Linked DNA regions of Homo sapiens: all the other regions are linked to region 1. Evidence: fine-mapped expression QTL. A gene starts in region 1. Each other region holds a variant in brackets. All regions are shown on one strand. Distances are from middle to middle.

Evidence for each region. PIP is the estimated chance that this variant, and not a neighbour inherited with it, causes the effect. A credible set is the group of variants that fine-mapping cannot tell apart.
Region 2: its variant is the best candidate, but not a certain one, in a credible set for the expression of DCLRE1C in thyroid (GTEx, PIP 0.61).
Region 3: its variant is the best candidate, but not a certain one, in a credible set for the expression of DCLRE1C in whole blood (TOPMed, PIP 0.57).
Region 4: its variant is the best candidate, but not a certain one, in a credible set for the expression of DCLRE1C in subcutaneous fat (FUSION, PIP 0.87).

Annotation. Positions count from the first base shown.
Region 1 is chr10:14,951,668-14,960,252 of GRCh38, reverse strand. DCLRE1C (DNA cross-link repair 1C) reads left to right here and starts at 6,157. Exons shown (of 14, transcript NM_001033855.3): 1 at 6,157-6,351. The coding sequence starts at 6,243. It overlaps MEIG1 (meiosis/spermiogenesis associated 1), which reads right to left and starts at 865. Exons shown (of 3, transcript NM_001080836.3): 1 at 696-865. RefSeq lists silencers at 593-642, 5,966-6,045 and enhancers at 6,064-6,791, 6,792-7,520.
Region 2 is chr10:14,893,953-14,902,537 of GRCh38, reverse strand. It overlaps SUV39H2 (SUV39H2 histone lysine methyltransferase), which reads right to left. Exons shown (of 6, transcript NM_001193424.2): 3 at 5,021-5,692; 4 at 2,853-2,999; 5 at 1,276-1,405; 6 at 1-132. The coding sequence ends at 26. It also overlaps a transcript of DCLRE1C not described here. Among named protein-coding and RNA genes, the nearest start is that of SUV39H2, 19 kb to the right of the region's middle. The variant G/A (reference allele first, on the strand shown) is at 2,883.
Region 3 is chr10:14,909,646-14,914,645 of GRCh38, reverse strand. The region is part of intron 13 of DCLRE1C (DNA cross-link repair 1C); the gene reads left to right. Among named protein-coding and RNA genes, the nearest start is that of SUV39H2, 33 kb to the right of the region's middle. The variant G/A (reference allele first, on the strand shown) is at 2,339.
Region 4 is chr10:14,826,898-14,835,482 of GRCh38, reverse strand. CDNF (cerebral dopamine neurotrophic factor) reads left to right here. Exons shown (of 4, transcript NM_001029954.3): 2 at 7,211-7,338. Among named protein-coding and RNA genes, the nearest start is that of CDNF, 6.8 kb to the left of the region's middle. The variant T/A (reference allele first, on the strand shown) is at 3,901.

The sequences.
Region 1 (8,585 bases):
CCTTTTATTCCTCCTATTAGATTATTTCTGTTCTTAAGAGGCAGCAGGAGGAGCCCTGTAACCAGCACGTAACCTTAGGCAAGGCCATGAACACGCCTGCGCCTGTTTCCTAACTTAAAGAGAAGCATTAGCCGGTCTCTAAGGTCCTGGAACTCCCGTCTGCTGTCGCTGGGCGTTCATTTGAAAGACAAAAGCGGTTCCGAAAGCACGCCCGGCGGTCCCTGCTCTGGGAGTGCTGACCTGCCTGTGTGCAGCACAAAACCGCTCCCTTCCGGCCCTCACAGCTAACCTGCAGTCCCCATCCCTCCAGCTTCCTTTCTGCCATAAATCACTAACTGTGTGGGAGATGAAATCCGCCTGGTGAAGGCTGGGACGGACAAAACACAGTATTCCAAAATCTAGGGCCCAAATCGGAGCCCTCGGAGACGCGGCCCCTAAAGCCAATGGGGTCCGGGGCGGCCCGGAAACTTCCGGGAGAACCGGACCCTGAGATTCTGGAAGGGCCAAATAGTGACCCTCTTCCCTAAAAATCACGGAAGAGACATGAAAACCACGGGATCTCCCTGGCAAACCTCAGGAGACAGCAGAGAACTGCGGAGCCGAGAAGGCGGGGCAAGAACTTCCGGGGTGGGGCTACGGCCGGGGCGCAGGGGTTGGCGGGCAGGGCCCTCGCCTCCAGCGACGCATCCACCCACCCCTGGGTCCGGCTCTACTGGGTTATCCTCGTTCCGCCGAGCAGGAGAGGCCGGGGGCGCCCGGGAGCTTGCAGGCGGGCGTGGGTGCTTGCGTTCTCTACTCGGGATCCGCGAGCAGGGCCAGCGAGAGGCCAAGTGTTGTGCCCTTCGCGACCCTCGCGTCTCTTAGTAACGCGATGAAGCTGCAGGAGCTCCCGGCTCCTTCAGGCCCCGCCCAGCTAGCTCAGGCCCCGCCCCCGGGAGTGGGCTTTTATGCGCATGCGCGAGGGCTGGGGTGGGCGCCGGCCCATCTTACTAAGCCAATGTAGGTCCCAGGTAGGAGCGCTGCCAGGGCTCACCCCTGAGCAGAGATGGAGGGCGAAAAAGGGTTACTTGCCGCTACTTGAATCCCAGACAAAATTCCCTGTGAAAGCGGATCACAGCACGGAGACTGTGTTTGTAGTTCCTGATAGTAGATATCTCCTATCTATTCATTTGCGAGGAATGAACCATTCCAGAGAGTCGCCATAGTGCCTGACAATCAGTAAACCTACAATAGATGATATCTATAGCTTTAATTATTTTTTCTAGCATTATCTATTACTATATTACAGTACTATCTAAGCGAAAAGTGATCAGATTCAAGATATACGGTTTTTTGTTTTTTTGTTTTTGTTTTTTTTTAGACGGAGTCTCGCTCCGTCGCCCAGGCTGGAGTGCAGTGGTGCTATCTCGGCTCACTGCAAGCTCCGCCTCCCGGGTTCACGCCATTCTCCTGCCTCAGCCTCCCGAGTAGCTGGGACTACAGGCACCCACCACCACGCCTGGCTAATTTTTTGTATTTTTAGTAGAGACGGGGTTTCACCGTGTTAGCCAGGATGATCTCGATCTCCTGACCTCGTCATCCACCCGCCTCGGCCTCCCAAAGAGCTGGGATTACAGGCGTGAGCCACCGCGCCCGGCCAATTTACATGTTTTGAATGTAGAGCCATCAGGACTTGTCAAATTGTTGAATGAAAGAAAGGAGCAATTGTGTGCTGGAGCCAGCTCATTAGAGCTCTGGAGACTCAGTAATTAAATTTTTAGGAATTTTTCTGAGCTCGTTGTTAAATACAAGCCATGAGCTGGAGTCAATGAAGATGACAAGGGCCTCGGGCACCTGCCCCAAACAAAACAAAAACACAAGACATATCACAAATTAAATTATATAAACTTCTAAATAAACGAGTCATACTAAAACAAAGGCAATACTTAGTAAAACTAAAAACAAAAAACTATTTACTTACAACTCCCAAATTTCTCTCTTCAGCCCGGTCTTTCTCTGAACTTTAGATTTGTATATCAATGTATATTCAACATCCACTTGATTGTACAAAACAACCTCCCCAAACACCTCCCTGCCAAAACAAAAACAAAAACCCTGCTCCTTCTTCATGTCTTTTAGTAGATGTGGCCTAGAGCCCTCTCTTTCCATATCCATCAATGCAACCTGCTGACTTTATAGCTTCTACTCAAGCCATCATAATTTTTCTTTTTTCTGGTAATTACAACCGTTCCCAACAGCTCTCTATGCCCCCTCTGTAGTCTGTTGTCAACACAACAGTCAATGCAATCTGTTTAAAACCTAAGTCAAGGCCGGGCGCGGTGGCTCACACCTGTAATCCCAGCACTTTGGGAGGCTGAGGTGGGCAGATCACGAGGTCAGGAGTTCGAGACCAGCCTGGCCAATATGGTGAAACCCTTTCTCTACTAAAAATACAAAAGAACTAGCTGGGAGTGGTGGCGTGCACCTGTAGTCCCAGCTACTCGGGAGGCTGAGGCAGGAGAATCGCTTGAACCCAGGAGGTGGAGGTGGAGGTGGAGGTGGCAGTGAGCCGAGATTGCGTCACTGCACTCCAGCCTGGGCATAGAGGGAGACTCCGTCTCAAAGAAAACAAAACAAAAAAACCTAAGTCAAATTATGTCAGTCCTCTGCTCACAACCCTGCAATGGCTTCCCATCTTATGGAGAGTGAAAACCAGAGGCTATACATGGTGAGCAAAGCCCTGTAAGATTTGCTCACAACACCCTCCCTCCTTCCTCTGTAGCCCCGGATCATTCTGCTGCAGCCACACTGGCCTAACACTGCCTAGCACACAGTAGGTGCTAAAGGGATATATTTTGAATCAGTATATTTCATCACTGCCCTTCCGATGCTGTGGAGGCAGCATGGCACGGTGGCTAGCAGTGTGTTGTCAGAGAGCACAGTGTCTAAAAGTGTGGTGGCCTTCTTGGATTTAAATCTGAGCTCTACTTACTATCAACATGACCCTGGACAAGCTACTTAACCTCCGTATCCTCAACTGGCAAATGAGGACAGAAAGTGTACCTATCTGATGGGCAGGTAGGATGTGAGGATGAAATAATGAGTATAAAACACTGATAACATCTGGAACTACATAAATGGTAGACAGTAATTACTTGCATTAGAAGGTACACTCCCACGTCCACAGGGATTTTTGTCTGCTTTTTTAGTTTTATTTTTTTGAGACAGGGTCTCTTTTGTCGTCTAGACTGGAGTGCAGTGGTGCCATCTTGGCTCACTGCAATCTCTGCCTCCAGGTTCAAGTGATTCTTGTGCCTCAGCTCCCAAGTAGTTGTTATTGTAGGTGTACCACCACACCCGGCTAATTCTTTTTGCATCTTTAGTAGAGCTGGGGTTTTGTCATGTTGGTCTTTAACTCCTGGCCTCAAGTGATCCACCTGCCTTGGCCTCCCAAAGTGCTGAGATTACAGGCAGGAGCCACCAGGATGGGCCACATTTTTTGTCTACTTTGCTCACTACTGTATCTTTAGTGTCTAAAATAGTGTCTGATACACAGTAGATGGTCAGTGAATGATTTGCTGAATGAATTAAGCTTCACCATCACATTTCCTGCAGTATTGCAGCAGCTTCCTACCTGAATTCCTGCCCCAGACTTCTTGAGTGTTGTGTTTTTTTGTTTTGTTTTGCTTTCGAGATGGAGTTTCGCTCTTGTTGCCCAGGCTGGAGTGCCATGGTCCAATCTCGGCTCAGTGCAATTTCCGCATCCTGGGTACAAGCAATTCTCCTGCCTCAGCCTCCTGAGTAGCTGGGATTACAGGCCCCTGACTCCATGCCTGGCTATTTTTTTTTTTATTTTTAGTAGAGACGGGGTTTCCCCATGTTGGTCAGGCTGGTCTCGAACTCCTGACCTCGGGTGATCCACCTGCGTCGGCCTCCCAAAGTGTTGGGATTATAGGCATGAGCCACCACACTGGCCCTGAATGTTCTTTAGACTCGAATCCAGTGGTTCTCAAACTTTAGGGTCCATCAGAATCACCTAGAAGGTGTGTTAAGCTGCAAACTGCCAGGCCCCACTCTCCCAGAGTTTCTGATTCACTAGGTTTGGTCTGGGCTATGCTTACCTATCTTGCCTATTTTCTATCCTGTCTTTCTCTTTGTCCTGACTCTATTTCCCTTTGTTTGTACTGTATCCATTGTGGAAAGAGGAGGAGATAAATAAGTGAGCAAATACATAAGATCACGAGCATTAACTTGACCTGCCTTTCCTGGAGCTCTACCGTGAGATTCTTCGGACACTAGACTCACAGCAGAATTTGTTGTTAGGTCTCCATAACCCTGCCAGGGCAGTTGTTCCCATGTGTTCTAAGACAAACCATCAAAGGTGTTGCCAGTAGTATACTAGCAGGATATTTTACCTCAATTAGTGATTATGTTGTGTATACCTTTCCATGTCACCCCTCCTCCCCCTCCTCAAGATTTCATGGAAATCTGTATTTGAATAGAACTCTGAGTATCATGGCTACAGGCACAAGCTGACATTCACTAGGGATGTCATTCTGTTTTGTTTTGTTTTTTTGAGACAGAGTCTCTCTCTGTTGCCCAGGCTGGAGTGAACTGGCATGATCTAGGCTCACTGCAACCTCCGCCTCCCAGGTTCAAGTGATTCTCCTGCCTCGGCCTCCCGAGTAGCTGGAGATGTGTGCCACCATGCCCGGCCGATTTTTGTATTTTTAGTAGAGATGGGGTTTCACCATGTTGTCCAGGCTGGTCCTGAACTCCTGACCTCAGGTGATCACCTGCCTCAGCCCTCCAAAGTGCTGGGATTACAGGCATGAGCCACTGAGGTGGGCTGGGATGGCATTCTGATTCCTGATTTCCCTGGTCAGAAATCTTTGTTCCTGGATTTGTTCTCACGTTACCTTGCGTCTCTGTGGAAGCATTTATTTGCCATATTCTGCAAACATGTTGTCGCCAGATAGATTGAATGCTACCCGAAGGTTTGTCACAGTGCTGTGCACAAAGTGGGACTTCAAGTGTTATGGAGGCCTGGAAAGCCAGGTACAATGGCTCACCCAGCACTTTGGGAGGCCGAGGCGAGCGGATCGCATGAGGCCAGGAGCTCGAGACCAGCCTGGTCAACGTGGTGAAACCCCGTCTCTGCTAAAAATATAAAAATGAGCCAGGCGTGGCGGCGCGTGCCTGTAGTCCCAGCTACTCTGGAGGCTGAGGCAGGAGAATCGCCTGAACCCGGGAGGCGGAGGTTGCAGAGAGCCGAAATCACGCCACTGCACTCCAGCCTGGGCGATAGAACTAGACCCCAACTGAATAAATAAATAAAATAAAGCGAAAGTGTTCTGGGTTGTTTGTGTTTAATTATACTAAGGAGATTTGATAGGAAGGAGCACAATAAATGTCATGGTGATTATTTGGTTTATTGTAATACAATAAAGGAAATACAATAAAAGGTTTAACAAACCTTTTCATAAAGTTGCTTTGGTTGTTAAAAAATTTTAGACCTTTCCTGCCATTTTTCTTTTTTTAAGTACATCATTCTAACTTCCTAAAAGTATAGCTCAAAAAGGTGGGGGCCCAGGGGAGAGGCCAGCAGCGAAGGCATTATTGGGATCTTATTTGCCCCAAGATCACGCAGAGATGATTTATTCAGTTTGTAGATTATATAAACGGAAGAGGGAATTAATAGTTCCTGAATCTACCATGAGTCAGATACAAACTTTCTCATACAACCCTCACGGTAATCCCACAAGGTTAGAAATTGGGAACAGAAGAGAGAGGGCGGGGAACTGAGCTCGGGTTTCAGGCTAGCAGCAGACAAGCAGGAAGCGGAACGAAGAATGATTTCTAAGCGCAGTTCCGCAGCCCACTCACCTCGTCGGCTGGGGCCACCTGCTCTGGGAGTTTCGATTTCCCTTCCCGCGACTGCACCTCCACAGACATGGGCAACGCCTTACCAGAGCAACACCTGTGTTTGTTGGGCGGGAATGAGCCTTGCACTGGGCAGGGCTCAGGGCCCATCGCGTGCAGCGAAGCGCGGGTGATTTAAACCCAAGCAGCGGGCGCCTAGAACCCGACCGGATGCTCCTTGACTTTGCCCCCGGTCTCCGGACTCCTCTGATTGGACGTGGCTGCGTTCGGCCGCCCAATGGCGAGGCAGCGCGCGGCTTCCCGGAAGTGGCGGCGCGGTCAGGGCTGGCCTTGGCTTCAGCTGCGGTTTTGGGGTCCCGGACTCTGGGATCGGCGGCGCTATGAGTTCTTTCGAGGGGCAGATGGCCGAGTATCCAACTATCTCCATAGACCGCTTCGATAGGGAGAACCTGAGGGCCCGCGCCTACTTCCTGTCCCACTGCCACAAAGGTGAGTGAGGGCTGCGCGTCGCCCGCTCCCGGGGCGCTGGGGGCTGGAGAGAGGACAGGAGGGGGCCGGCCCTGGAGCAAGGAGCTGCAGCCTGTGGGAAGCCAGCGAGGGGGCGGCCAGCACACGCCTTGTCCCAGTCGGGCTCTTCAGCCTCTCAAAGGCTTCATCTATTTTCGGATGTGGTCAACGCGGCGTAACGGCGCCTGCCAGTTGCGCCCCGGGCCGGCTTGGTCAAGCACTGCTAGTAGTTTCTCTTGGTAGCTTTGCTGGTGGCCGATGATCAGAGATTGGCGAGGGTTAGTACTTCCCTCAGAGCCTCGCTACCATGTATGAAGAAAACAAGTTTCAGATCCATTTGACCACACCCTCAAACATTGGTCAGCAAGCAGGAGACTCAGACACACACACAACTGTGGAACAGCCCGCCTAAGAGCTCCACGAAGTGCAAGCTCCTTGGCCTTTGGGTGTTCTGTCCGTATCCAATATGAAAGTTTCGTTCTAGTTTAGGTTGGAGGGATGTTTCCCTTCTAGATGGTATCAGGCAACCTGAAAAGCTACTATGATTTCACAGCTGGATCCTTTCACAGCTGGGCCGATTTAGGGATTAAGGTTAGAGTGTCGCTGATGCTCCAAGCAGAGATTGGAGCTAAGTTCCAGAGTTTAAATACCGCTAACTTGACAACCATTGTTCATTTTCACTTCTATTGTGCTAACAAGTCACTAACTTTTACCAGGGAAAACAGTTTTAATGCTCATTGTGCTAATTCGCCCAGCCATTAGTGTTAATTGGAGAAAATGATAAACGGAATCACTGGAGTTGCTGCCTCCTGCTGTGTGGCCTTGCAGCGTGCTGGAGCAGGAAGCTCCCACTACCCTGTGGAGTCAATCAGCGTAACAAACCTATCTGTACCTGCGCAGTAGGAAAGTATTTTAAAGTAAATTACAGGTATCCAAACACAGCCTTTCCTCACAGGGTTGGTGTGAAGGCCAGCTATGTTGTTTTGTGTGTGGAATCAATCACTTGGACTATAAATCGTTGAAGTTACTGCTTCTGCGAAATGTCTCTGCTTTTTTTTTCCACAAAGCCACCAGTGATTTCTCTTTAATGGGAAAATCTGGACCTCTTCTCGTGCGTTGCCGTATTCGCATCGTGCACGTCTTTGAGCATCTCCTTCTTCTTTTTCTTTTTTTTGGAGACAGGGTCTCCCTTTGTCGCCCAGGCTGGAGTACAGTGTGGCACATGCTCTCTGCTCAAGTAGTTGGGACTACAGGAGTCAGCCACCATGCCTAGCTAATGTTTGTATTTTTATTATTATTTTGAGGTGGAGTCTCCATCACCAGGCTGGAGTGCAGTGGCGTGATCTCTGTTCACTGCAACCTCCGCCTCCTGGGTTCAAGCGATTCTCGTGCCTCAGCCTCCCAAGTAGCTGGAGTTACAGGCACGCACCACCACACCCAGGTAATTTTTGTGTTTTTAGTAGAGATGATGTTTCACCATGTTGGCCAGGCTGGTCTCGAACTCCTGGCCTCAGGTAGATCCACCCACCTCAGCCTCCCAAAGTGTTAGGATTACAGGTGTGAGCCGCTGTGCCTGACACATTTCTGGTTTTGTTTTTCATTGAGAATCCACTGCTGGACGAGGATATGCCTATTTTTACTTTTTGTGTAGAGCCGCACTGGAGTCTCTGAACTCAAAATGGGCTAGCCAGGATTAAAGTATACTTCCGAAACTTGCACTTCGTGTTTAGGATGGCTGAGTTTGGAGAAATAATAAATCTAAAGGAATTTGAAATCATCATAAGTTTGTGCATTAAGCCAGAAATGGACTCTTCCCTACTGTTGAACAGTCTATAACAACTTTTTCTGTTCTCTGACCACATGTGGATCTGCTTAGTCAACCAGGACATAAACTCATCAAGGGTGAAAACACAACTTCTGCTTTTGGAGGTTTCTCACATTGCCTTCTGTTGGCTTTTCACCTTTTTGGGACACAGGCTTCTTTGATTATGATATGGACTATCTCCACAAAATTCATATGTTGAAGCCCTAACCCCCAAAGCGACTGTATTTGGGGCTGGGGCTTTTAGGAGGAAAATAAGTTTAAGTGGGGTCCTACCGTGGTGTCCTACTCTGATAGGATTAGTTTCCTTACAAGAGAAGGAAGAGAGAGGGCGCTCTGTCCTCATGCGGGGCCTAGGAAAGCCATGTGAGTGCATAGTGAGAAGGCGGCTGTC
Region 2 (8,585 bases), 58 kb after region 1:
CATCAGCTCTATTTCCTGAAAAAGTTCAGTTGAGGTAACCTCTGCAAGTCACAGCTCCACATTTACATACTGTTCTGACCCTCTTTTTGGCTGGGCTGTGGTCAATAGAATCTGAAGATATATCTCCAGAACCTGAAGACACAGAAAAAGAAATATAGGAGAAAGAGAGTTAAGACAATTTAGAATAAATTTCAAATTTTCTATTATATTAGCTTTATTATCAGTGATAGAGGGTACTTACATGGTCAAGACCCTTAGAGTAAGTTAACTCCCAAGGAAATGTAGTTAGTTCCCTTTGAAATATTTACAAATAAATGTTAATATTCAGCGTCAAATCATAATGAATTGTCTTGAAAGGATGGTGTGGGTTAATAATAGGTAAACTTTATGTTATTAGCCCATATTTGTCAGAAAGGATTTCTGAAATGATGAAACTTACTGGGAATATCTAATACACATTCATTTCACACCGTATATAAAAGCACAGTATGTAAGAGGTTAAGCAATGACAATATGTAAAGGCCATCATTCTTAAAGGAAAGAAAACATTTATATTGTCACAATAAAGCAAATAGAATTAAATGTTCTTTTTAAAAGCCAGGTTCAAGTAGGAATAGAATAAATTTGTATGTGATTTAAATATTTTCAATCTTTTGAATATACATCTCTCAGTAAAAATTCAAAAATGTAGGCTTATAGTTTTTTTTTTCAGACAGGGTCTCTGTCGTCCAGGCTGGAGTGCAGTGGTGCTATTCACAGCTCAACTGTAGCCCCAACCTCCCTGTCTCAAGCCATCCTCCCACCTCAGCCTCCCGAGTAGCTGGGACTACAGGCACACGCCACCACGCCCGGCTAGTTTTTTCATATTTTGTAGAGACAGAGTTTCACCATGTTGCCCAGGCTGGTCTTGAATTCCTGGGCTCAAGCCCAGAGTGCTGGGATTACAGGCAGGAGCCAGCATGCTTAGCCCACAATTTAAAAAAAAAAAAAAAGACAAGTAGTACAGTATTAAGATGCTATAATAAATAAATCAGTTTCCAAAATGGAAGTTCTGAAAATTTACGATGTAGAACCATTCCTCAGCTGAAGCTCAGGCAGACCTGGGTTCTAGTATTAGCTGTTGGATTAGCTTTGTACCTTAGGATGACAAACTTAGTGCCTCAACTTTTCATCTTTAGTATTAGGTTTGGTTCAAATATCTAAGGTCTGTTCCTAGTCTGATTTGATTCTTCATATTGAAACTGACACCAATGAAACTGTACTTGAAAAGCATACCTTTCATTTGATAATCAAAAGTCAGCTCTTCTCCAGCATTTATGGTTCTTGTGGAAAACAATGCTATTCGGGGAAGACGAGTATCGAGGTTATCAATGAAAACATTGAACACCTGAAGATTTGGGTCACACTAAAAAGGAACATTAGAACCCATTTAAGTACAAACGGTGTAAACAAGCCCTTCTACATGCCATATAAAATGTTTACTTTCCTAGAGATTTAGTTTAAGTTCCACTGGAAATTAAGTTGCTTATTGCTTAGAGGTCTTTGAGGCATGCACATTTAAAAAGATTTTTTTCCCTTATAAAAACTTCAGACAAGTATAAAATAGAGAAAATAAGAAATCCCTATGTATCCACTATACAGCTTCAACAATTAGTAACATGCTTGCCAATCTTATTCCTCTAGTCCCAACTTTTTTTTTTCCTGGAGAATTTCAATACAAATCCCAGATAACATTATTATTTCACTGGTAACTATTTCAGTAAGGCATACACTTTAAAATAACTAGAACAACTGTGTTTAAAAAATCAAATCTGCACTACAGAACTCAAATTTTACACTGCATGGAGTTTCACTGCTTGAATTTTTGGTCCAAACTCTTCAATGTTTTGAGAATACTACAGTAAACTTACGGAATATGCAAGAAAAAAGATGTAGTGAGTCATACTAAGGAATCAAAACTGTTTGATGGCCCTGGATAGAATATCTCTATTTTGAGAGTATCTCGAATTTATCATTAAGAAAAAAATTCTTCAATGTTTAATCAACAAACAAGGGCCCAGAAGCTCTCTGCTAATCATACACCAATTTCTTACTATGAAATCCATCAGAAGTTTAACATGGTCTACTTCCTTTATATGTTCAGCTATATAACTTTGTGGCACACACTGTCCTTATTATCCACAAAATGCAGATAATGTCACCCTAACAAGCCTAATGTTTTACTGTCCACTTGCTACTTAGTAGGTAACCCAAAATTATTAACTTCCCTAATTTTTGGAAATTATTTAGAGTCCAGAATTCTGCAGTTAAGTGCCAGCTGTATTCTAAGAGCTTTCAGACATTAAAAGGTAAGGAAGAATACTAATTTATAATTTAGAAAAATAGCCCTACATAAATACTCTACAAATCTTTAAATTTTATAAAAAGTTAACATGTTTACATTTTAAGAAAATACATTTACCTTCAGTTGTACATCCTAAAATGTAGTCGTGTTAACTTCCATTAAGATACAGTTCTGTGTAATTCTTGGACATTTTACCTCTTAATTGCTCTGCTCATTGTAATATGAAAGTAATACCTACCGTACAAAGTTACTAGAAAGTTTAAATGAAGTAACATATGTAAAGACTCTTGTAAAATACACCCTATTAATATTTGGTAGGCACCTCAATGTTTAATTTTCCTAATACAGCAATAATACCATAACTTAACAGAAGCTGCCCTCCTTATAAAATACATATTTTGGAAATGTTAAAAGGATATGTAGTTTAAAGGGAATTATTCTTTAGCTATGGAAACTAGTACTAGGTTGAATTGTTAGTCGTGTCTAAAATTTACGTATGTCTTCTTACGCTGTGATTCACAAAATGAGACACATTGCC[G/A]TATCGAGCCGCATCCACTGTGAATTCATCAGACTCATAGTCCAGATCAAAGAGATACGTGATTCCCTTGTTGTCATAGAACTGTCCTCGTCTTTCAGCTTCTTCACTTGTGATTACCTAAACAGAAAAAACTGTAAGTATATTACGTAGCTACTGAACCAAAGAAGCATTCATCTACCTATCTACTAATATGCGAATACCTACAAATATTTAAAAAGTAAGAAATTCAGGTGTCATCAAAGCAAACATTCACACAAACTAAGACTCAGATGCAAAGAGGTGGGAAAATGAGGGGAAGAAAAATGATAATGCAAAAGACTGATGACCTTTTTTTTTTAAACAGGGTCTCACTCTGTCACTCAGGCTAGAATGCGGTGGTGCCATCATGACTCCCTGTATCCTTTAACTCCTGGGATCAAGCGATCTTCCTGCCTCAGCCTCCTGACTAGCTGGATCACAGGTGCATACCGCCATGCCCAGCTAATGATTTAGTTTTTATAGAGATGTGGGGTCTCACTATGTTGCCCACACTGGTCTGGAACTCCTGGGCTCAAGTGAGCCTCCAGCCTTGACCTCCCCAAGTGCTGGGATTAACTGTAACTGGTTGATTTATGACTTTTTAAACAGGATTTGAGCAGTACATTGGAACACTGCATTACTTTCATTATAATTAGGATGTTCAAAAAGCTATACAACTATAGCTCTCTACAGGACACAACTGAATGTTAAGGACTAAATCTGCAAGTATATGCTCTAAATATGATCCAGGCACATTTTTCCTATAACTTATATATATGCAGTTACAAATGGAAAATTGTTAAAAATACAGGGGAGAAGCTATGTTAACTTTGGAATGGAAGGTTTTGTTTTTGTAGAATATGTTATTTTCATGCAATTCTGTAAGTCTAAGATCGTCATCTACAGTTCTGCTCTTAAGAACACAAGTTTTATGACACGCTCGGCTTAAGAAACCAAAAGTGTCTAAAGTACTTTATGTTACCAACCAAATTTGGCTGCTGCACTCATTAAGAATGCAACTTAAAAAATTTTGGTTAACAAAAAGAGTAATTTGATTATACAAGATCTTGTATACTGAATAATTTATAATAATCTACCACTGTCTAAAAGTGTAAGAATCAAAACAGCCATCTAATTTAGTTTCAGAATTATAGATGAATACAGATAATTATAGGTGACCCAATTCCAACTAAAAAATCCAGAGTTGACAACTCCAGATATGTAGCCATGCTTGTGTCTTTCTAGTCACAGCTCAACCTACCCTTCAGTTTGAAGCAGTGTGGTGCCATGGTGAAGACTACTGATTTTAGAGCTTTGAATCTCGGTTCTTATTACTATGTGACCTGTGTGACCTTGGGCAAGGTACTCAATTTCTCTACAATAATGGACATAACAGTACTACTTCTCAAAAAAAAAAAAAAAAAAAAAAAAAAAAGAAACAGTACTACCTCACTGAGTTTTGGAGAGGATTAGTGAATTAATACATCAAGTGCTTAGAATAGTATGTGACACACGGCAAATACTTTTTACATTTATATATATATATACATATATATGATTTGTATACAAATAAATTTGCTAGTATTTGTATGGTAGTTTTGAGAATGGTCTTCACAGTTCAAAAGTAAGTTACAGATTATGGATGCAATAAATGCTTGTGTATATTTTACAAAACTCATAAATATAGTATCTTTCATGTTGATCCAAAATAGAGTTCTGCCAACTACATTTAATCATATTTGGTCAAATAGATGAAGTAAATTAAAACTTTCAAGTTTCAAAGCAGCATGTGTTACATCTGAGTTTCTTCTTAGGACTTTTGGGTAAAAACAGTTGTCATATTTTAAATTTTACAAATCCTAGGTTTGACTAGTAGGAATGTGTATTTGTTGAAAGATGACTATATCAATTTGTTTTAACGTATATTTTTTATTCATATAAAAGTTTTTTATTTCTAAATATGCCAGTGAACTCTTCTCCTAAATCTGAATAAATTTCTACATATCTGCAAATGAAAATATCAAAATGTACCAAGTATCTCTTAAAGAGATAAAAAGGTAATTTTCCAAAAGTATAAACCTTGCATGTCCATCATTTACTACGTGGCAAATGAAACATACCTCTCCAACATATTCCATGACAAAACTCATTCTTTTAATCTTCACAAGGGTCTTTACACCCCAGCCACGTCCATTGCTAGTTCGAAAGATGCAAAGCGAATACTGTGTGCCTTTTTGTACAATCCTATTGGGACAATCAGGACCACACTGACACCTTGAGTTGCATTCATAGATGGGAGTACCAGGTGGGATTTTAATTTGTTGGTTTTTATTATAAGCCAAAAGAACTCCAGCTTCAGCAGGACAACATTTTTGAAAGAAGCAATCTGTGCATGAACAACCAAAGGTAGCTTCATTGACTAAGCTGATTCCAGGAGCTGGTTTGTATTCGTTAATGTAATAGAAGTCTGAAGGTGGGCCCTCTAAATCAACAGTATTTTCAACAAATATCATTCCTTTATGATTCTTTCTTCTGTTGAGTTCATCTTGCCATCTCTGCAGAGCTATCCTTTGTTTAGCCTTCTTCACAATGTACTCAGCAATGGCAGGTTTCAAAGTTTTGTTATTGTCTTTTGGAGTTATTGCTTTGCCTTTCTTTACCTGAGATAAATAATTATGCTTGTCATTAGAGAATTGCTGAAGCAGTAACGGGCACTTCAGATTTTGCAAAGGTTCCCAAGTATTTGTAGAATCTGGCCATCCTTTCCATTTTACAAGATAATATTCCATATCCTTAAAATACAAAAGAAAATAAAATGCAAATCAGACGGCTATTTCCCAGTTTTACCAAAAATAATTAAAAATCTTAAAGAGTAAGGTATCCAATACCATTTTTCTTACTAACAGTTCAGAACATGTAGTCACAGGTTCCTAACACATGAAGTATAAATCATACAAATAAAACTATTTTTCCTTATATTACATAAAATATGGAATTTAGATGTGGCATAACATGTTTGATAAGAGGCTAAAGAGTTTTACCTGGAAAAAGACAAAGGTACTGAAACTGATGACTATGTTACTAAATGGTGATTCAGGTTAAACCCAGATGTATTTATTTTGATCATGGAAATAAATGGTCCCAAAGCTAACTCTTTATGACCTAGGTTAGTGGCTTACTTGGCCAGCAATAGATTCAGGCATTCTTAACGTCCATAACTTAATATCAAACACCAGACACAAGGGAACTCATTTCTCAACATCATGGGCACACATTCTCTAGATGTTCTAGAGATGAACTATCCAATACGGTTATTACGAGCCACATACAGCTACTGAAAACTTGAAATGTGGCCAATCTGAATTGAGATATGCTTAAAATATAATACACACTGAGGCTGGGCACGGTGGCTCATGCCTGTAATCCCAGCATTTTGGGAGGCCAAGGTGGGTGGATCGCTTGAGCCCAGGAGTTCGAGACCAGCCTGGGCAACATGGGAAAACCCCATCTTTACTAAAAACACAAAAATTAGCTGGGTGTGGTGGTGCACGCCTGTAATGCCAGTACTAGGGAGGGTGAGGCATGAGAATCGCTTGAAACTGGGAGGCAGAGGTTGCAGTGAGCCAAGATTGCACCACTGCACTCCAGCGTGGGCGACAGAGTGCGAGACTCAGTCTCAAACAAACAAAACAAACAAACAAAAAAAAAAGCAAAAAAAAAAAACCCACACTGAATTTTGAAGACTTTGTATCATACAAAAAAAAGAACACTAAGTAACTTAAAACTATTACAGGTTGAAATAATATTTTGGATATATTGGATCAAATACATTCTTGAAAGCAATTTCAGCTGTTTCTTTTTACTTTGTTCAATGTGGTTAGTAGATGTTGAATGGCATCTGCAGCTTGCATTACATTTCTATTGGACAGCTCTCTTCTAGAGAATGCTGATTTTATTTAGACTCACCCATGACTGGATTAGGTAGCAGGCACTCAAGCCACCTAAGAGCAACTATTCTAATCTATCCCTCAGACTGTTGTTGGCCACGATGCCTTGGCAACAAGGCACCATGGTATCTTGTCTTTTCACTCCAATGACTATGTTTTCCTCCCTTAAAGTAAGGCAATGCCACGTTTAAGTTTCTTTTTAAAAAGGCAGTTCCGGCTGGGTGCGGTGGGTCACGCCTGTAATCCCAGCACTTTGGGAGGCAGAGGTGGGTGAATCACTTGGGGCCAGGAGTTCAAGACCAGCCTGGCCAATATGGCGAAACCCTGTCTACTAAAAATACAAAAAATTAGCCGGGTGTGGTGGCAGGCACCTGTAATCCCAGCTACTTGGGAGGCTGAGGCAGGAGAATCGCCTGAACCCAGGAGGAGGAGGTTGCAGTGAGCCAAGACTGTGCCACTGCACTCCAGCCTGGGCAAAAGAGTGAGACTCCATGTCAAAAAAAAAAAAAATAAAAGTAAAAAATAAAAGATAAAAAACACAGTTAAGTGTGTCTAACAAATTTTGAAGTAAAGTCTCAGTAATTTTTTTTTTCTTCTGGAATAATATATAGCCACATGCCCAAGGGTAACATTAGATCATAAAATGTCTTCTAAGATAAAAAGGTGATTAAACTGCATTGGACAGTTACATTATCATTTTAAGTCTTAGATACTGAAAAATCTTGTTAATTGAGATAACTGCTTTTCCCTGAAAATTTTAAGAAAGTTTTTATTACAAAGTACAGAGGTCCATGACAGTTGTTTTAACAGTCATAATGCATTAATGACAAAAGGTCTAAGCCATGTGATATCTGCCATGTTGCTGAGGCACAAATTGGGCTGAGGGACACCATGAGGCAGCTGTGCAGGAACCAGGCGCCCACCCAGGAGTGGGCTTATTTTATCCCCACTATCTGCATCTTAATATTTTGTTTCATTATATTCTATTCAACAAGCAGTAATCTTTGTGAATTAAAAACTTTGCGGCCGGGCGCGGTGGCTCACGCCTGTAATCCCAGCACTTTGGGAGGCCGAGGCGGGCGGATCACGAGGTCAGGAGATCGAGACCATCTTGGCTAACACGGTGAAACCCCGTCTCTACTAAAAATACAAAAAATTAGCCGGGCGTGGTGGCGGGCGCCTGTAGTCCCAGCTACACGGGAGGCTGAGGCAGGAGAATGGCGTGAACCCGGGAGGCGGAGCTTGCAGTGAGTCGAGATCGCGCCACTGCACTCCAGCCTGGGCGACAGAGCGAGACTCCGTCTCAAAAAAAAAAAAAAAAAAAAAAAAAAAAAACTTTGCTTTCTTTTGAAAATTGGTCAAAAGTTTTCTTCTCTTAAAAAATGTGATTACATGGTGTGCAGAAATGCACAAAAACTGTAATTCTGTGGAAATATATATTGCGGTTCCAGGAAAAAAAAAAAAAAAGCCTAGATGTACATTTTAGTATTTGTCAAATTGAGCCCCACTAAAGCCTAAGGATTTCTTCCTCCTTTCAGGTGACCGCTACAATTCAGGACTGCTGTTAGTGGGTATCTGTTCACACTCTAGCAGATACAAGATCCAACTGGCAGCATCTAACTTTTCTACTCCCCTTAATTCTAAACATTTTAAATTTTTCAGATGCTAGAATAAAGCAATGCAACCCTGGTCCTTTTTCTTTTTTTTGGCTACAGTGTTTCCTATCATAGCCCTGGGT
Region 3 (5,000 bases), 44 kb after region 1:
ATGGTCCAGAATATTTACGGACCATCAATTGTGGACCAATTTACACATTAAACCTGGTAAATGTTTAATGTGTACTTCAAAGAAATATATGTACTACTGTTGTTGGATGAAGTGTTCTATAAATGTCAACTAGGCTAAGTTAGTTGACAATGTTGTTCAGGTCTTCTACATTCTTGTTCTATCAATTATTGCCAGAGAGGGGTGTTGCAATCTCCAGTTGTAATTGTGGACTTGCCTATTTTGCCTTGATTAGTTCTATTGGCATTTGCTTCATCTATTTGAGGCACTATTAATAGGTATACACAAGTTTAAGATTCTTATATCCTCTTGAGGGATTGATACCTTTATCTTTAGGAAATGAGTCTATCCCCTGGTAACATTCTTAGTTCTACAATCTACTAGAGCCATTTGAATTTCTTCTCATTAATATTGGCTTGATGTATCTTTTTCCATCTCTGTATTTTTAACTAGTCTTTATATTTAAAGTGGGTTTCTTGTAAGCAGTATGTTGTTGGATGTTTTTATGGCCAACCTGGTATTTTCTGGCTTTTAATTGCAGTGCTTAGTCCACTTAGTTTAATGGTACCCATTGATATGGTCAGGTTTAAGTTTATCCTCTTGCTATTTGTTCCATTTGTTCTTTATTCTTTTTTGGCCTTCTTTCAGGTCAAGTAATTACTGACTGATTCTGTTTAATCTCTTGTTGGGTTATTGGCTGTGTAACTCACTGATTTCTTATTTTAGTGGCTTATAATGCAGTCATCCCTTAGTATCCTTGGGGGATTGGTTCCAGGACCCCCCCAAGAGTACCAAAATCTGCAGATGCTCAAGTCATATTAAATGGTGTTACATTTGCATATAACCTACACATATCCTCCCATATACTTAAAATCATCTCTGGATTACTTATACCTAATACAGTGTAAATGCTTGGTAACTAGTTGTTATACTGTATCAATTTTTGTGTTTTTTGTATTTTAATTTTTGCTTTTTTCCAAATATGTTTGATCTGTGGTCAGTCAAATCTACAGATGTGGAACCTGTGGATACAGAGGACTGACCGTATACATCTTTAACATATCAGAGTGAAAAGATAAATGATATATTACTCCAAATATGGTATAGGAATGTTCCAGCAGTATATTTCCATTCCTCTTCTCCCAGTCTGTGCTGTTATTGTCATACATTCTCTGTTATTAACTTTATAAACTCCACAATACAAAATTATTTTTTAAGCTTTATTGAAGTATAATTGATACACCATAAATTCATCCATTATAGGTGAACAATTCCACGACTGTTAGTATAACAGAATTGTACAATCATCCCCACTATCTAATTTTGGAACATTTTTTGTTACCCAAAAAAGAAACTTTATGTCTATTTCCAGTCACTCCCCATTACTATTCCCGGCCTTAGGCCGCAACTAATCTATGGTTTGTCTCTATAGATTTGTGTTTTCTGGACACTTCATATAAGAGAACTCATATGGCCAGGCACAGTGGCTCGCGCCTGTAATCCCAGCACTTTGGGAGGCCAAGGCAGGTGGATCATGAGGTCAGAGAGATCGAGACCATCCTGGCTAACACGGTGAAACCCCGTCTCTACTAAAAACACAAAAAATTAGCCAGGTGTGGTGGCGGGCGCCTGTAGTCCCAGCTATTGGCCAGGCACAGTGGCTCACGCCTGTAATCCCAGCACTTTGGGAGGCCAAGGCGGGTGGATCATGTGGTCAGAGAGATCGAGACCATCCTGGCTAACACGGTGAAACCCCGTCTCTACTAAAAACACAAAAAATTAGCCAGGTGTGGTGGCGGGCACCTGTAGTCCCAGCTATTAGGGCAGCGGAGGCAGAATGGCGTGAACCCAGGAGGCAGAGCTTGCAGTGAGATCACACCACTGCACTCCAGTGTGGGCGACAGAGCGAGACTCTGTCTCAAAAAGAAAAAAAAGAAATTATACACCATGTGCTATTTTGTGCCTGGCTTTTATTTCGCATTATCTTTTCAAGGTACATCTATACTGTGGCATATATCAGTATTTCATACCTTTTTATTGCCAACCAATATTCAATTGTACAGGCATACAACATTTTATTTATCCACTCACCAGCTGATGGACATCTGGGTTGCTTCTCCTTTTTAAATAATAATGCTATGAAAATTTGAGTACAAGTCTTTACGTATCTTTCTGTTGGGTTTTATTTCTTGTGGGGGGTAGAATTTTGGAGTCATATAGTTGGCTTGGGCTGCCCTAAGAAAATAACACATACTAGGTAGCTTAAACAGGAGGCCAGGCATAGTGGCTCACGCCTATAATCCCAGCACTTTGGGAGGCC[G/A]AGGCGGATGGATCACCTGAGATCAGGAGTTCAAGACCAACCTGGCCAACATGGTGAAAACTTGTCTCTGCTTAAAAAAAAAGTAAAAATTAGGCTGGGCACAGTGGCTCAAGCCTGTAATTCTAGCACTTAGGCAGATCAAGTCTCCAGCCTTATGATGGTTTAATTATTTCCCTAGAGGTCCATCTCTAGATAACAGCCACACTGGCTTTAGGGCTTCCACATATGAATTTTGACAGGAAGCGTTCAGTTCATAACATATGGTCAATCTGTTTTAACACTCCAAGGAACTGCCAAACATTCCCACACTGAATACATTTTACATTCTCTCCGGCAATATGTAAAGATTCCAGTTCCTTCACATATTAGCCAACACTTCCGTCTTTTTTAGTATAGCCATCCTAGTGTATGGTGGTACCCTGCAGTTTTGATTTGCATTTCTCTAATGACTAATGTTGAGCTTTCTTTCATGTGCTTATTGGCCATTTATGTAACTTCTTCAGTGAAATGTCTATTCTGATCTTTTGCCCCCATTTCAACTGGATTATTGACCTTTGTATTGAGTTGTAAGAGTTAAAGTCTGGTATCAGTCCTTTATCTGACATGATTAGGAAATATTTTCTCAGACTTGTCTTTTCACCTTCTTGATGGTGTCTTGAAGCGTAAAGGTTTTAAGTTAAATTTGTCTATTTTTTTCTTTTATTGCATATGCTTTGGTGTCATATCTAAGAAACTATTTGATCCAAGATCATGAAAATTGACTCCCATGTTACATAATTTTACAGTCAGTTTTGACTGTATCTTCCTGCTTCTTGAATTTCTGATAATTTGTTTTTGAATGCCATACATTCTGAATTTTACCTTTTTAGGTCCTGCATAATTTTGGGATTTCTAAAAACATTCTTGAGCTTTGTTCTGGCATGTGGTTAGCATGTTTATAGTTTGATCTTTTCGTGTCTTTTACCTTTGTTATGCAGGAACAGAGTAGCATTTAGTATATGGTTAATTTTCCCCACTACTGAGGCAAGGCTCTTCTTGGTTCTTTTACAAATGCCCATGGATCATGAGGTTTTCCACTCTGGCTGTTGGGACCAGGACAAGACACTGTTCCTGGCACGGTGAGTTCTGGGCACTTTCTTTCCTTTTGTTTGAGTGATTCGTTGCCTGGCTGCAGGTAGTTTCCTTACAAGCACATGCTGCTTAGTGCACTGAACACGTGGTGGGGACGCCTCTGCAGCTTTTCAGAGTTTCTGTGCAGCACTCTCCTCTCTGGTCTTCTGCTCTGTAAACTCCAGGTACATTTATTTCTTCAATGTTCCACTTCCACCTCACATCAAGGATGTCCATGGGCTCTATCCAGATGTTCCCTCCCTGACTGGAATCTGTTATGAAGCAGGGAGTCAGGCAATCATAGGACTCATCTGTGTCTTATTTCTCATGTCATTGTCCTTAATTGCTCGATGTCCATTTTCTTGAGAGATAGTTTCTGATTTTTCGTTATTTCAAGTGGGAGGTTAAATCTAGTCCGTTACTCCATCTTACCTGGAAGCAAAAGTCCTTTCTTCCTTTAATCTTTTGTGCCTTTTATGCATCTACCCAATCCACACTCCTTTTTGATAAATGTCTTTTGGGATCAGGCATAGTCACTGATTTGGAATGCAGAACTGTTCAACTTAGAGATCATACAAAAATATTTCATAAAAAGGTAATTTTGGGCTAGGCAAAGTGGCTCATGCCTCTAATTCCAGCAATTTGGGAGGCCGAGGGGGTGGATTGCCTGAGTGCAGGAGTTCAAAACCAACCTGGGCAACAAGGGGAAACACTGTCTAAAAAAAATTAGCTGGGCATGGGGGTGGATCTCCTGAGCCTGAGAGGTAGAGGCTGAACTGTGACTGTATAAAACTCAAAAAACAACTTTGGCATAGTAGTGAGGGACCTAAAACATACATATGATCTTTGGCTTAAAATCTACATTCTGCAGTCTAGGATGATTCCAAATACAGTCGTTAGATATCTTAGTGACCTTAAGCCCTAAGTTCAGTTACAAGTCATAACACTGAACCTTTAAGAATGAGGTTGGGTCGTGTGTATTGGCACACCCTTTTCTCTGGGCCTAGCTTCACACGGGGAACATGGGAGCTGGATAATGGTCTCTATGGTCCTTTATATTAGTGTCTTAAAAATGCAGTGTTTAGCCACATCATTTAAGTGGATTATTATAACACCAGATTCAGCAGTAGAACAAGAAGTTGCCATACACAGTAGTCTTGGGTGCATTTAACTTTCTTCCTAGGTTAGATACTGTTACAAGATGGGAAAATATTTGTTTTTCTAAGTAAGGCTTTTTTCATTTTAAGAACATTTGTTGACACAGCATGCTTATTAATGTTTTGAATTTTAAGTTCTTGACACGTTGATTATTCAGTATTTTGCTTTAAAGTTGATTTAACCTGTTGCAACCTTGTGCATAAAACATGTCAATAAGATGCTCACAGAAGAAAAACCTTAATAAAAAGCAATTTAATTTTCCTAAGTCAGCCAACCCACTGAGCATCTACTATTTGCAGAGCACACAGGCTTTGCAAACCTGGCTGAACAGATATCAGCTGTAGAACTTAAAAATCAAATTATTTGGTCCTATCTTCCTCAGGGATTCAGTAGG
Region 4 (8,585 bases), 120 kb after region 1:
TTCTTACCTTGACTTCTTTGTGGTGTGTGACACCATTGACATCTTTCCCTTTCAGAGACTGCCTTCTCTTCATGGTCATGATACTGCTTTTCTCCTTCCTGTCTCTATGCCCACTTGTCCAGTGTGTCTTTGTGGGCTTCTGATCCTCTAGCCATGGCTTAGAATTTTCCAGGGTTCTGCTCTCTTCTCTTCTCTCTTCTCAGTCTACACACTCTTCTTGGCAACCCAAACCAACCTACCTCCAGTCTAATAAATCTCTAACCTTATATCCACTGACCTTTCTAGAGTCTCAGACCTTGCATCCAATTGACTAGTGAACATGCCCTCTTAGATATGATGTACATCAACATCAACACAGTCAAAAAACCAAAGTCATCATCTCCTTCCCTTCTCACTCCCCTAAACCTGTTACTGTCATGCTTACGGTGACAGCATGGGACAACTACCTGGTCACCTAGCCTAGATTCTAGACTTCTCTTTCCCCCTTATCCCCCAACCAATCACTACATCGTTGAGTCTACCTCCTGACTGGTCCTGCTCCTTTCTCCTTACTCAAGTCTAGGACTTCCTTACAGAACTTCAGCAGTTTTCCCCTCCGCATTGTCAAAATAGCATTCTTCCTGCTACCTGTCTCCCTCCTGTCTAGTCCCCTGGCAGGGCTATCATATTACTTCCTTATTTAGTATCTTTCAGCAGTTTCCCAGTTTCCTCCAGGTGCCGCTCCTTTGTTTTCCCACAGTATCTGATACACTTCTCATATTGTTTTGGTCTCCTCTGAAAGTCAAGGCAGTGTTTCTCACCACCTCATGTCCAGCAGCTACCATAGTGCATGGCATATGGTAGGCGCTCAGTTTGTTGAAGAAATGTATGCATATATGCTGTGATAAAATTTTGGGTATATTTTAGTGAGTCAAATGTAGATCTTGAAAAGGACAAGTTAGTATTCCTAACTTTCATCACCTAGATGATACATTGGCAGAGTGATAGTTGAGGTATAGAAATCATATGAAGGTATACTGTGGGAAATACCACAAGAGTGATGAGGCACTGGAATACTGGGGGTTTCTTTTGTAGGAGACAAGAATTAGAGGCTCCTAGGAGACTTTGATGATAGTTTCTTTTTCTTTTTTCTTTTTTTTTTTGAGACAGAGCCTCACTCTGTCACCCAGGTTGGAGTACAGTGGAACAGTCTCAGCTCACTGCAACTTCCGTCTTCCAGGCTCAAGTGATCCTCCCTCCTCAGCCTCCTGAGTAGCTGGACTACAGGTGCTTGTCATTACACCCAGCAAATTTTTTGTATTTTTAATAGAGATGAAGTTTCACTATGTTGCCGAGGCTGGTCTTGAACCCCTGAGCTCAAGCGATCCGCCAGCCTTGGCCTCCTAAAGTGCTGGGATTACAAGTGTGAACTCCCGTGCCTGGCCTGATGATAGTTTCTGCTGACTTGTAGCATTAATCATTACAGCAGGTTTCTGCTTTGCATACTGGATATATTTGCTAATTAAACTCAGCAAAATACATGTTGAGAGGGATCTCATTTTCCACGTGTAATATAGCAGATCATTACACATTCCTTTTAACACTGTGTTCACTTGCCTTTTGGAATAACACTCAGTCTTTGTTCTTATCCTACTTCACTGGCTGCTCCTTTCCGTCTTTTTCTGGTTGTTTTCCATCTTCCCAATTGCTAAACATTGGGATTTCACAAGGCTGAGACCCAGGACTGTGTCTCTTTTCCGTCTCTCCTTACTTTGTGTTCTCATCTCAAAAACACCATTTGAATGTTGATGGCTTCCAGATTTATATAGTCATCCTAGATCTTATACCTGATCTTCACATTTCTATATCTAGCTGCCTTCTCACTGTTTCCAGTTGGATGTTATATTAGTCAAGGTTCTCCAGAGAAATAAAACCAATAGGACCAAACAGAACATATAATCTATATCTATATATCTTCTTAATATCTGTAATATTTATCTATGTAAAAAGAGATTTATTATAAGGAATTGGCTCACAAGATTGTGAAGGCTGAGAAGTCCAAAATCTGCAGTGTGGGCAAGCAGGCTGGAGACCCAGGAGAGCCTGTGGTACGAAGGAAGTCTAAAGGGAGTCTGCTGGAGAATTCCCTCTTCGTCAGGAAGGCTGGTCTATTTTGTTCTGTGCAGGCCCTCAAGTAGTTAGGTAAGGCCCACCCACATTATGGAGGCCAATCTGCCTTACCCAGAGTTCATCAATTTAAGTGTTAATTTCATCATTGCTACATAAAATTAACCATCACAGACGTCTAGAAGCATCTTGAACTTCATATGTCAAGACTGGATTCTGGCCAGGCATGGTGGCTCATGCCTGTAATCCAGCACTTTGGGAGGCTGAGGCAGGCAGATCACCTAAGGTCAGGAGTTAGAGACCAGCCTGGCAAACATAACGAAACCCCATCTCTACTAAAAATACAAAAATTAGCTAGGTGTGGTGACATGCGCCTGTAATCCCAGCTACTCAGGAGGCTGAGGCACAAGAATCACTTCAATCCAGGAGTTGGAGGTTGCAGTGAGCCGAAATGGCACCGCTGCACTCCAGCCTGGGCAACACAGCGAGATTCTGTCTCAAAAAAAAAAAAAAAAAAAAAAAAAGCAAAAAAAGAAAGATTAGATTCCTGCTTGTCACCATAAACTGCTTCTCCTGCAGTCTTCCTCATTTCAGCAGATGGCAACTCCACGGTTCCAGTTTCTTGGCCAAAATTATTGGGATTATCTTTGATTCCTCTCTCTCTCCCCAACTCTGACACATTACATCTGGCTTATTAGTAAATTCTTTTGGCTCTTCCTTCAAGATAGGTCCAGAGTGTAACCACTTCTCATGACTGCTGTAGCTACTGCCCTGGTCTAAGAGATGCAACTATTTTGAGAACCTCTAAACTGGTCAGCTGGTCTCCCTGCTTTCTTTTCTGCTTCCTTGTAATCCATTCTTCAGACAGCCTTCAGAGACATCCTTTATGAATCATGTCGGACCATAACTCTTCTCTACTCAAAACCTTAAATGGCTTCCCTTCTCAGAGTGACATCCAGAGACCTTACCAAGCTTGAAAGGCCCTGGATGCCCCAGCATGCTGCTGCCTATTTGATCTCATTTGCTACACACCTCCCTCTTGCTCCCTCTACTTTAGCCACACTGGCCTTCTGGCTGTTCCTTGAAGCCACCAAGGACACTCCTGCATTTGAGCCTTGGTACTTGCTGTTCCTTCTGCCTGCGGAGTTCTTCCTCAAGTCATCCACTTAAATTGTTCTTCCACTTCCTTCAGGTGTCTGCTTGAATATCACTTTATCTAAGAGATCTTTCCTAACCAATCCATTAAGAATCGTACTATTACCTTGTCACCCTCCATCCTCCTTACCATGTTTATTTTTCTTCTTTGCTACGTATACCTTTACTTCTATCGGATGTAACTCTCAAGGGCAAGTTCTTTGTTTTCTTCATTACTGAATCTTAGGAACCTAGAATACTGTTTTGCACTTACTAGTCGCTTAGTAAATATTTGTTAAAAACATGAATAACTGGCTATTATGTTTAGTATTCTGTTCATGTTGATAGCATTAGAAATAAAAATATATGGGCTAGGCACGGTGGCTCACACCTGTAATCCCAGCACTTTGGGAAGCCGAGGTGGGCAGATCACCAGGTGAGGAGATCGAGACCGTCCTGGCCAACATGGTGAAACCCTGTCTCTACTAAAAATACAAAAACTTAGCTGGGTGTGGTGGCACACGCCATTAGTCCCAGCTACTCAGGAGTCTGAGGCAGGAGAATTGCTTGAACCTCAGAAGGTGGAGGTTGCATTGAGCCGAGATCACACCACTGCACTCTAGCCTAGGCAACAGAGCGAGACTCCATCTTGAAAAAAAA[T/A]ATATATATATATATGTGTGTGTGTGTGTGTGTATATATGTATTATATATGTGTATATATGTATTTTATATATATGTATATACAGTATATATATGTGTGTGTATATATATATATATATATGACTTTAAGCTCTAAAAGATGACATGATTGGCCAGTCATCTAAAAGCAACTGAAAATACTGGATAAAATAAAAATGTGAAAATATTGTAAAGTATGAGTTGGGAAGGCATACCCAGAAGCCAACCACAGAGTGGAAGTGGGAGTCCAGGGGGTTGAAGGGAGCACTGAAGCTGGCTTTACCTGGGAGCATTTGTTAGCCAGGTGATCTGAACTGAAGTTTTCATGGTTTTGGCTAAATAAACACAAGTCCCAGGCATTTCCAAGTTAGGAGAGTGAGAGCAGATCCTCTACCAACTAATTCAGGGCCCCAAAGACCTAGCCCTTCATTATAAAGGGTGAACTGAAAGTAACTACAACCTATTTCCATCTTTAGAGACTAAAAGAAATGGTTTCACTTGAACATTTTTACTGATAAAAGGAAAAACAAAACTTTCTTGATAACTCATAATTACAAGCTCGTGCACATAGGTAGGGGTCAAAGGCCCCATTCACACTACTAGGATGATCTGAAACATCTCGAACTGATAATTTAGTTGAAAGTGATTTTAAGTAGATCATACCCTCAGGAATCAGCAAATGTGAGTCTTGTTTTTGTTTTTGTCTTGTTTTGTTTTTTGAGACGGAGTTTCACTCTTGTCGCCCAGACTGGAGTATAATGGTGTGATCTCGGCTCACTGCAACCTCCGCCTCCCGGGTTCAAGCATTTCTCCTGCCTCAGCCTCCCAAGTAGCTGGGATTACAGGCACCTGCCACCACTCCTGGCTAATTTTTGTATTTTTAGTAGAGACGGGGTTTCATCATATTGGCCAGGCTGGTCTCGAACTCCTGACCTCAGGTGATCCACTCACCTTGGCCTCCCAAAGTGCTGGGATTACAGGCATAAGCCACCGTGCCCAGCCAGCAAATGTGAGTCTTACTTACAGGAACCCACATTCAACCTAGTCCTCAAAGAATTCATACAGTTAAAGTTCTAAGAAATAGAGCTGCCACTTAGAAAAGTCATGAACCCCTAGGGAAGAAGGGCACATAAGTGAGAGCCAGCTGGAACAAAAAACAGAAGAGGCACACCCCTGCAGTGGCTTCAGGTATTGGAATAATCAGGCATAGAAGTTATGTTTTTTTATGTTTAAAGAAACATAGAACATAAACCGAACCCATCCCTACCCATAGGGGACTATAAGGAAATTTACCTTGACACTGAGCAAAGTAGAAAAAAGAAAAAATATATATCTCTGAGAAATGATAACAACAAAACGTCCCTCACTTGTATTTGCAGCCAAAATTCACATCGGGGCCCAAAAACTTCAAGCTATATATTTAGTTTAAAGCAGTGCCTGGCTAGTTGCCCTTAGTCCCTGAGAAATACAAATACAAATCCTTACTGGAAATAATGCTCCTTCATCTCAGGCTTCAAACAATCTTCACAAATAAGTTTTGAGACGTATGAGTATCGTGTGGCGCAAAATAAGCAAGCACACAAAGAAACGAGGCACCAGGAACAAGAACCTATAGAAACAACAACAAATAGAAACGTACTCTGGGCCTGATGCAGTGGCTGTAATCCCAGCGCTTTGGGAGGCCGAGATGGGCAGATCACTTGAGGTCAGGAGTTTGAGACCAGCCTGGCCAACATGGTGAAACCTCGTATCTACTGAAAATATAAAAATTAGCAGGGTGTGGTGGCGAGCGCCTGTAATCGCAGCTACTTGGGGGGCTGAGGCAGGAGAATCACTTGAGCCAGGGAGGCAGAGGTTGCAGAGAGTTGAGATTGCGCCATTGCACTTAAGCCTGGGTGAACAGAGCGAGACTTCGTCTTAAAAAACAAACAAACAAACAAAAAAAACTCTGAAGACTTCAGATATTGAAATTTTCACACACAGATCATAATTAAGTTTAGTGTGTTTAAAGATATAAAAAACAAGCTTGAAAGTATCTTCAAGATATAAGGAACTAGAAGAAATGACCTAACAAGCCTCCCATTTTAGCCTCCTCAGTAGCTGGGACCACAGGTGTGTGCAGAGACAGAGTCTTACTGTGTTGCCCAGGCAGGTCTCAAACTCCTGGCCTCAAGAGATCCTCTCGCCTTGGCCTTGCAAAGTGTTGGGATTACAGGTGTGATCCACTATGCCCAGCCTGATTTCACTTTAGGCTCATAACGATGGAAATAAAGACTTATGCAGATCACCAAGGGGCTTCATTCAGGATTCTTATTCAGGTTTTTCTCTGTGCTTACAATTATGCTGTCCCAAGATGATAGCCTATTTTATTTTAGGGTTAGCCAAATTTTGTGGAAAAGTTATCATTTTAGGTAGAACTTCGTTCCAATGATTGATTGATTCAATATGCTGTTACAATGTGTCCACTGCATTTAGGCCCAATACTAAACTAATAGCAACAGGCCTGAAATCATTCTTTTTATTTATATTTTTAATTTTCTTGAGACAGGGTCTCACTCTGTCACCCAGGCTGCAGTGCAGTGGCTTGATCATAGCTCACTGCAGCCTCCATCTGCCGGGCTTAAGTGACCCTCCCACCTCAGCCTCTCGAGTAGCTGACACGACAGGCATTCACCATCATGCCTGGTGTTTTTTTGTTTTTGTTTTTTTGTGTTTTTTTTTTAGTAGAGACAAGGTCTCACTATGTGGTCCAGACTGGCTCCAAACTCCTGGGCTCAAGTGATCTTTCTGCTTCTGCCTCCCAAAGTGCTGGGATTACAGGTGTGAGCCACCATGCCTGGCCCCCAAATCATTCTTACTTAGCATTGGAATCCACTGTCATGAAGCATTGACTCATATGGACGTTTCTTTTTTTGTGTGTGAGATGGAGTCTTGCTCTGTCGCCAGGCTGGAGTGCAGTGGTAAGATCTCGGCTCACTGCAATCTCCACCTGCTGGGTTCAAGTGATTCTCCTGCCTCAGCCTCCTGAGTAGCTGGGACTATAGGCACGCGCCACCATGCCTGGCTAATTTTTTGTATTTTAGTAGAGAGAGGATTTCACCATGTTGGCCGGGATGGTCTCGATATCCTGACCTTGTGATCTGCCCACCTCAGCCTCTCAAAGTGCTAGGATTACAGGGGTAAGCCACCATGCCCAGCCCCATATAGACTTTTAAATGTGGTTAGTGGGTCATATGCATAGGTGTGGTAGTGGTTAAGTTGTGCATGCAGACATATTTATTTGTTCCTTCCAGTATGTAAAGAATTCTTGAACCGATTCTACAAGTCACTGATAGACAGAGGAGTTAACTTTTCGCTGGACACTATAGAGAAAGAATTGATCAGTTTTTGCTTGGACACCAAAGGAAAAGAAAACCGCCTGGTATAGTAAATTTCACCTTTCATTTTCCCCATGTGCTTGAAGAATACTGCTAATAGTTTCATTTCTTAGACGTGAAGTCCTCCTACTTACATGTTTGCCTCAAGTATGTCCATTTTAGAGCACGCAGCAAGCAGAAATCCATCTTCCAGTGACATGTAGTTCTGCGTGTTTTCATCCAGAATATTTCCAGTGTTACTTTACTTTCTGAGTACACCACAGATAACCAATTCTATGTTTTCTTTTTTCTTTTTCTGAGACAGAGTCTTGCTCTGTTGCCCAGGCTAGAGTGCAGTATCATCATCTCAGCTCACTGCAACCTCTGCCTCCTGGGTTCAAAGCATTCTTGTGCCTTAGCCTCCCGAGTAGCTAGGATTACGGGTGTGCACCACCACACCCTGCTAATTATGTATTTTTAGTAGAGACAGGGATTCACCATGTTGGCCAGGGTGGTCTTGAACTCCTGACCTCAGGTGATCCACCCACCTCAGCCTCCCAAAGTGCTGGGATTACAAGAATGAGCTACCATGCCCAGCCCAATTCTACGTTTTCTTAAATGAAATTATGAAACTGAATTCCCAATAAGAATTTAGCATCCTAAGAGTGGGTGGGCTTTCCATTTCTTACCAAGACAATTAATCAAACTTATCAAAATATTTTACATTATTATTTATACATAATTAATAAAGTATTTATATTTTCTTCTAATCACATTAATATGGTGTTTCCTGGGCATACACATATGGCTTGTTTCAATATACTGTTTTATATCACTTAAGACAATTTGGGGCCAATTCCTTTTTCCCTAAAATTGTCAGATTGTCAGTTACATCTGCATGTTGGCTGTTCACCATGGCCATGTTGTAAAGCTCATGCCATTTATCCGTATCATTAAGGTCTATCTATCTATATTTTTTTGAGACAGGGTCTCCCTCTGTCACCCAGGCTGGCGTCCCAGTGATCTTTCCTCACTGGAACCTCAACCTCCCAGGTTCAAGTGATCCTTCCACCTCAGCTTCCCAAGTATCTGGGACTAAGGCACATGCCACCATGCCCAGATAATTTTTGGATTTTTTTTTTTTTTTTTTTTTTTTTGTAGAGACGGGGTTTGGCCTTGTAGCCCAGGCTGATCTCGAACTCCTGAGCTCAAGTGATTCACCCGCCTTGGCCTCCCAAAGTGCTGGGATTACAGGTGTGAGCCACTGTGCCCAGCCAACGTTTATATTTTTAAATGTAAAATTTTGAAGTCA